Linked DNA regions of Homo sapiens. The protein of the gene in region 2 purifies or fractionates together with the protein of the main gene of each other region. This does not show direct contact. Each region holds a gene or a part of one and is shown on either strand. Other genes may lie near its edges.

Region 1 (3,500 bases), on a different chromosome or scaffold from region 2:
CCCAGGAGCAGGAATATTTACTGAAAGCTGCATCTCACTCTGCCCTCACCTTTCCTTCTGTAGGACCCTGTGTGGTGAGGTTTGAGCATTCTAGGCAGATTTCCACTATTAGCATGTTCTTCCCTTTTGTCAAGCTCCTACTCCACATGGCTTGATTATCAAATTCAAGATTTCCTGGGTAAGGGGAGGCTTGACTGGGCTACATGTGGGGAAGGCGTGGGGTTGAGGAGAGACTGCTGGGCTCCGGGAGGCAGGAGTCTGGTCTAGTCCTGCTCTGTGGTTGCCCTTCAGTGTGACCAGTGATGGGGCGCTGCCCCTGTCTGGTTTCTGTCTGCCTCACTGGCAGAGATGTGGCTTGGGGGAGGTGAGGGAGTGGCCAGTGGTCATCTTCCTCCCAGCTCACCCCCTACCTGGGGGGCACCTGAGGCCAGTATCTTGCTCCCTTGAGTGTCCCGGTTGTGCCCTGGTCCTGGTTGAAGGCCAGAGACAGCCAGGATGAGGCCTGGGCCAAATGTCCCTAGTGAGGCAGATGCTGAGCCCTAGGTCATCCTCTGTGCCCCAGGCTCTGGGCCATGTTGCTGGTTACCCCTCTCCCTGGGTATACTTTAAAAGGCCAGTTCTACATGATGTATATTTCACCACAATTTCTTAAAAAGGCCAGCCTCCTTTTATCTTATGTCTACTTCCCCTTCCTCAGGCCTGGGAAGTGAACAAAGGGACCAACTGTGTGACCTCCTATCTGGCTGACTGTGAGACTCAGCTGTCTCAGGCCCCAAGGCAGGGCCTGCTCTATGGCGTCCCTGTGAGCCTCAAGGAGTGCTTCACCTACAAGGTATGCTCTGCCTCAGCGCCAGGCCTCCATCGTCCCCTCCATCCCTGCCAGCCTGCTCTGCATCTTGGGTCATTTTGGGCCCTTAGAGGAGGTATCAGGTCCAGAGGCCTTCCGAGGGGACACTGGTATACCTGTTTTGGCCTGTGTGACAGTTGTTGGAGTGGACCCTTGGCTGCCCACGGGCCCTGACTCACTCCCTTCTGGTGCCCATCCCTCCTCCCAGGGCCAGGACTCCACGCTGGGCTTGAGCCTGAATGAAGGGGTGCCGGCGGAGTGCGACAGCGTAGTGGTGCATGTGCTGAAGCTGCAGGGTGCCGTGCCCTTCGTGCACACCAATGTTCCACAGTCCATGTTCAGGTTGGGTCTTGGGGTGGGGCGGGGCGGGGCAGGGGCACCGGTCCCAGCATGGCACGGGCTGACCCATTCTTGGCTCCTCCAGCTATGACTGCAGTAACCCCCTCTTTGGCCAGACCGTGAACCCATGGAAGTCCTCCAAAAGCCCAGGGGGCTCCTCAGGGGGTGAAGGGGCCCTCATCGGGTCTGGAGGCTCCCCCCTGGGCTTAGGCACTGATATCGGAGGCAGCATCCGCTTCCCCTCCTCCTTCTGCGGCATCTGCGGCCTCAAGCCCACAGGGAACCGCCTCAGGTAAGGTGGGTGGAGGGCGCTTCTGGGCCCCTCGCTGTGTGACCTTGGCCTAGCTTCCAACCTCTCTGGGCTCCAGGCGGGGATTCGGTCTCCGGGGTTTTGCTGGGAGGAAGCATTACAGTACCACTGGCCGGGCGTGGGTCCTAGTTTCCAAAGCGGTGAGTGTTCAGAGCTGCTCTGTGGGTGTGGGGATGGCGGCGGGTGGCCATTTCCTGTTTCCAGCATCTTATGTTTCTTATCCAGCAAGAGTGGCCTGAAGGGCTGTGTCTATGGACAGGAGGCAGGTGAGGTCCGTGGTGCTCTCAGTGCCCCGAGGAGGGTGGGGGTCGGCCTGACCCGCTTCCGCCCGTGCTTCTCAGGTGGCAGGGCAGTGTCTGGCCCCCAGGCTGCTCTAGGTCTGGGTTCCTCGCTCCTTGTCTGCTTACCTCCCTCACCTCTCTGCCCCACAGTGCGTCTCTCCGTGGGCCCCATGGCCCGGGACGTGGAGAGCCTGGCACTGTGCCTGCGAGCCCTGCTGTGTGAGGACATGTTCCGCTTGGACCCCACTGTGCCTCCCTTGCCCTTCAGAGAAGAGGTGAGCAGGGCTGGGTGGGCATGAATGTGGACCGCTGAACCCAGACAGCCACCCCAGGCCTTGTGGGCAGGCCTTGGAGCCCCTGTCTCCTGAGAACCGTCCCCCAGGCCTCTGAGGCCAGGGCGGGTTGCTCCTCCACAGACGGCCACCAGATGGAGCCCTTGCCTGCATTTGGAAATCCTCAGGCTTTTTTTTTTTTTCCTTTTCTTTCTTTCTTTTTTTTTTTTTTTTTGAGACTGAGTATCGCTCTGTCCCTCAGGCTGGAGTGCAGTGGCGCGATCTCGGCTCACTGCAAGCTCCGCCTCCCGGGTTCACGCCATTCTCCTGGGTTCACGCCATTCTCCTGCCTCAGCCTCCCGAGTAGCTGGGACTACAGGCGCCCGGCACCACGCCCGGCTAATTTTTTTTGTATTTTTAGTAGTAGAGACGGGGTTTCACCGTGTTATCCAGGATGGTCTGGATCTCCTGACCTCGTGATCCGCCCGCCTCGGCCTCCCAAAGTGCTGGGATTACAGGCTTGAGTTACCGCGCCGGCCGGAAATCCACAGGCTTTCAAAGGTGCCCAGCCTCAGCTGCTGGCACCAGGGATGCAGGAATCATTTCCCAGCCTGCTGACCTTCAGCAAACAGCAGCCTTTCTAACAGTATTCCTGTCCACATTTTGGGAGCAGCACGCCACGCTGCCTGCAGACCCCAGCTCATGTAGCCTGTTCCTGCCAGACTTGCTGCTACGTGAGCCAGGGTCTGCAAGCAGCGTGGTGTGCTGCTCCCCAAAATACCACCACAGCAGCCTGTTGCTGAGACAGGCTGGGCTTGTTGCTTTCTGTGGCGAGGCAGCACTGTCTTGCAAAGCCTTAGGATCATCTCAGAGGGCAGGAAGGGTGGGGAGATCTGCTGAGATTTTGAAGTCTGGTTTAAGGTGGATCTTTCAACATGGGGGTTGGTTAAGATTGGTTTAAGTTGGTTAAGATTGGTTAAGATCCTTAATCCCCATGTTAAGGATTGGTGGGCACAGCAGGGTGTGGATTTTGAGGCGAGAGGTGTCAACCGATGCTTCCTGTTGAAGAGTTGGAATGAATCGGAAGGTTATTTGTGTTATGTGTGTTATTTGGAGGAGGTGGGGGAGTGGCCAGTGGTCATCTTCCTCCCAGCTCATCCCCTACTGCGGGGCATCTGAGACCAGTATTTTGCTCTCTTGAGTGTTCTGGTTGTGCTCTGGTCCTGGTACTCTCTCTCTCTCTGTCTCTGTGTGCGTTGGGGTTGAAGGCCAGAAACAGCCAGGTTGAGGCTGGGGCCAGATGTCCCCAGTGAGGCAGGTGCTGGGCCCTAGGTCATCCTCTGTGCCCACTCCAACAGAGTGCAGGAGCTGTAAAGTTAGATTGGTGCAGACAGAGGAAGAGTGAAGTCACGTTAATGTAGACAGTAAGCTGTGTGACGTAAGCCCCGTTT
Region 2 (3,500 bases):
GAAATGGATGTTTTTGACAGTTTTCTTCCAGCTTTCTAGCTGTTTTTTGGGAAGAGGTTTCATCAACCTCCTCACTCTGTCATGCCAGAAATCAATATCTCAGCTACTTTTTACATTCTGCTAGAATTGGAATTATTAATGCTATTAAAAAATAGGCCATGTGGACCGAGCACAGTGGCTCACACCTGTAATCCTAGCACTTTGGGAGGCTGAGGTGGGTGGATCATTTGAGGTCAGGAGTTTGAGAACAGCCTGGCCAACATGGTCAAACTCCATCTTTACTAAAAATACAAAAATTAGCTGGGTGTGGTGGCGCACACCTGTAATCCCAGCTACTTGGGAGGCTGAGTCAGGAGGGTCGCTTGAGCCTGGGAGGCAGAGGTTGCAATGAGTTGAGATCATGCCACTGCACTCCAGTCTGGGCAACAGAGTAAGACCCTGTCTCAAAACAAAACAAAACAAAAACAAAAACAAAAACAAAAAAATGCATGGGGGTGAAAATATCATTAAAAATCTTATTTTCAAAGCAAAATGTTTGAGGTTTTTTTTCTGGAGAAACTTCAACCCATAAAACACAAAGATGACTAAAAGCCCAAGTTAAATAATGATTTCATTAAATTAAATTTAATTAATTAAGGAGGCTTACTCCTTGAAAGCAGCATCTAGAGCTCTACAACTTGCCTCCCTCACAGGCACTAAGGAAATGAAACGTGCCAACAGAAGTTGGCCCCACCATGTTTCAGTTAAGATTGGCCATCCCACAGCCACTTCCCCGCTCCTTCTGTTTCTTTGTGGTTCCCCCACCACTTTATCTTATGCTTCCCCCATAGTCATTCGGATACACAGAGGTTGTTCTTAGAATAATCCCTTTTCTAAGGTTTCATAGAAATGCCCCAACCTGGCCATTTGTCTATCTTCCTTTCTCTATCACCTTGGATCGACTGAGTCCCCTTGTGTAAGTCACTTGAGCTCTGGACACCTGCACAGCCTCCAGGAAGGAAATAAGGAGCCTATCCATGATTGTCTTCCAGGACTGTAAGAAAGATGAAATATGCCATGTTGATAAAATGAGCAGGCCTCAGAAATCGTTACCTGAATGAAGGAAGGATCAGGCTCAGGGACAGCGCCTAGAAGTGGTCTCATGAAGCTCAAACAACTTCACATTACCCAGGTTCTGAGATCTTTGGATACACAGGCTCTTGAGAGAGAATTTCCCACCCCTCTTGTCTCTTACCTTAGCAAAGAAAATCCAGGCTGCACACTGCCCTGGGGCCAGAAGGTTTTTTAGCTTCACTGTACTGAACATGAGAAAGAATCCCAAAAATCCACTGGAAGGAGAAAAGATTCTCTTGTTAGTGAGGCTTGTCTTCCCTTAGCCAATGGCTGACTAGTGTCTGCTACATTTTACCAATCAATTTCAAATTATTATGCAACCTCTACCTCATCTGTGTTTTCTAGATCTGTGATCTCTGGATGAAAATAAAAAAAATTTTAAAGTCATTAAGCTCTGCTTTTCTAAGGAGCTATGGTGGGAGAATTTTGATTAGAGGAATGGTGCAAAGAAATTTCAGAGGCCTCTGGCTAAATCATGAAAGAAAAAAAAGGTGGAGGACAACACCTCTTGTTCCTTCCCATAGAACTTCTGGAGTTTTGGTGCTTGGCAAGGCAGAGCTTAAATTTTTTTCAAGCAAGATAAACTGGCAGGAAAAGACTTCCAAAGGGAAACTCACCATGTGAGAAGAGAGAGTCTGGACTGGCCTCCAGGCTCAAAAGAATCTGAAGGGGAAGGCTGGCTTCAGTGACACATATGGCTGAGGCCAGAAGTCCCCCAAACCAGGCTGTCCTGCCATAGGAGGTATGCTTTGGAAATGGTGCCTACACATGTGTGTGAATGGAAAGATCCCCACTCGAGAACCTGAGGAAGGGGCAGCATCTTGGGGCTATTCAGGAGTGTGGACCAACAAGGGCGAGGGCACAGCAGTGGATGGAGATGTAGTTGCCTGTGCTGCAACTATTTCCAAAAGTGCCCTGTGTGGCCAAGGCCAAAGCAAAGGGAGCTCCAAATGCTTCCTGACATTTGAAGGCAGGACAACTGGGGAAGAGGTGAGACAGACAGTGTGTGTGTGTGTGTGTGTGTGTGTGTGTGTGTGTGTGTGTGTGTATGTGAGAGAGAGAGAGAAAGGCTGACTTCATGCAAATATGTGCAAGTGGTGGTTTGAGTGTGACTGTTATTTGAACTTGAAAATTGCAAAGTAAGAGATATGACTGCAGTTGTAACTCCAAGCTAGAGAGGCAAGCCCTGTGAGTTGTACTTCATTTGCATCTCCAGACCCTTGACTGCCACACTTCCATCTGACCTTATACAGGCACTGGTGCGCAGCTCCAATACTGATCATAAACTCTGAGCAGGAAAAGCCCAATCTTGGGCTGCTCTTCGTATTTTCAACGGAGCCTAATATGGTGCCTCAGTTACGGTACACATTAACTAAATGCTTGTCAGGTTGAATTGGAAGCAGACTGAATTAATTGAACACACCTAAGGCCAAATGTCACAGAAATGTGTACCTTCACTTCATTAGATTAGACTAGTTCACAGCCACATTCTTGGGGCAGGACTAAAGACAGGCATTAGGTTTCCCCATGTGTATTTCAGCCTGTTTGGCCCTAATGACCTGCAAAGTTTGTTCCAATTTGCATCAGCAGTCATGGGAGGCTGAACAGCTATGGATTAAGATGTCAAGTTACTCACACCCAAAAGGCAAAGAGGGCCCGTGGGTAAGCAGCAGGCCTACCCAATCACACCCAGCGCCTGGATTTCTATTCCTCACTGTGCTTACTGACCCTCGTAACCTTAACCAAATCCCCCTTCCCACCTTTTTGTCTCAGGTTCAGTTGCCTTAAAGTAGAAATAATCATAGCAGTCCTCATCCTATCTTAATGGAAACCAGAGGCTTTTAGAACAGTAAGATTACCTATCCCCAAAGTCTCACTTTATTAACAATGAAACTGGGGCACAGGTACAATTAGAATCCAGGTCTCCATGGCTCTTCAGATCTCTGGACCAGCAAGGGCGCTGGCACAGCAGTGGACAGATGTAGTTGCCTGCGCTGGAACTATTTTCAAAAGTGCCACTGTGTGGCCAGAGCCATAGCAAAGGGAGCTCCAAACTCTTCCTGGCATTTGGAGGCAGGACAACTGAGGAAGACGTGAAGCTTCATGGAAATGTGTTCTTGACCAGCTAGACAAAGAGTGAGATATGGCCAGGTGCGGTGGCTCAAGCCTGTAATCTCAGCATTTTGGGAGGCCGAGGCGGGCGGATCACGAGGTCAGGAGATCAAGACCATCCTGGCTAACACGGTGAAACCCCGTCTCTACTAAAAATACAAAAAAAAAAAAAAAAAAAAAGAAAATTAGCCTGATGTGGTGGCGGGCACCTGTAGTCCCAGCTACTCGGGAGGCTGAGGCAGGAGAATGGGTGAACCCGGCAGGCAGAGCTTGCA

What was found. The genes of interacting proteins can lie anywhere in the genome.
Region 1: the proteins of SLC35D4 (region 2) and FAAH purify together in Homo sapiens (affinity purification with mass spectrometry; one large-scale study listed by BioGRID and IntAct). This does not show direct contact.

Annotation. Positions count from the first base shown.
Region 1 is NC_000001.11:46,404,317-46,407,816, forward strand, and holds part of FAAH (fatty-acid amide hydrolase 1), read left to right. Parts: intron 1-697; coding exon 698-832; intron 833-1,055; coding exon 1,056-1,189; intron 1,190-1,271; coding exon 1,272-1,478; intron 1,479-1,721; coding exon 1,722-1,762; intron 1,763-1,927; coding exon 1,928-2,052; intron 2,053-3,500. UniProt on the Homo sapiens protein: Catalyzes the hydrolysis of endogenous amidated lipids like the sleep-inducing lipid oleamide ((9Z)-octadecenamide), the endocannabinoid anandamide (N-(5Z,8Z,11Z,14Z-eicosatetraenoyl)-ethanolamine), as well as other fatty amides, to their corresponding fatty acids, thereby regulating the signaling functions of these molecules.
Region 2 is NC_000018.10:23,350,962-23,354,461, forward strand, and holds part of SLC35D4 (UDP-N-acetylglucosamine transporter TMEM241), read right to left. Parts: intron 1,329-3,500; coding exon 1,235-1,328; intron 1,034-1,234; coding exon of another isoform or gene 932-1,033; intron 1-931. UniProt on the Homo sapiens protein: Golgi-localized UDP-N-acetylglucosamine (UDP-GlcNAc) transporter that transports UDP-N-acetylglucosamine into Golgi lumen.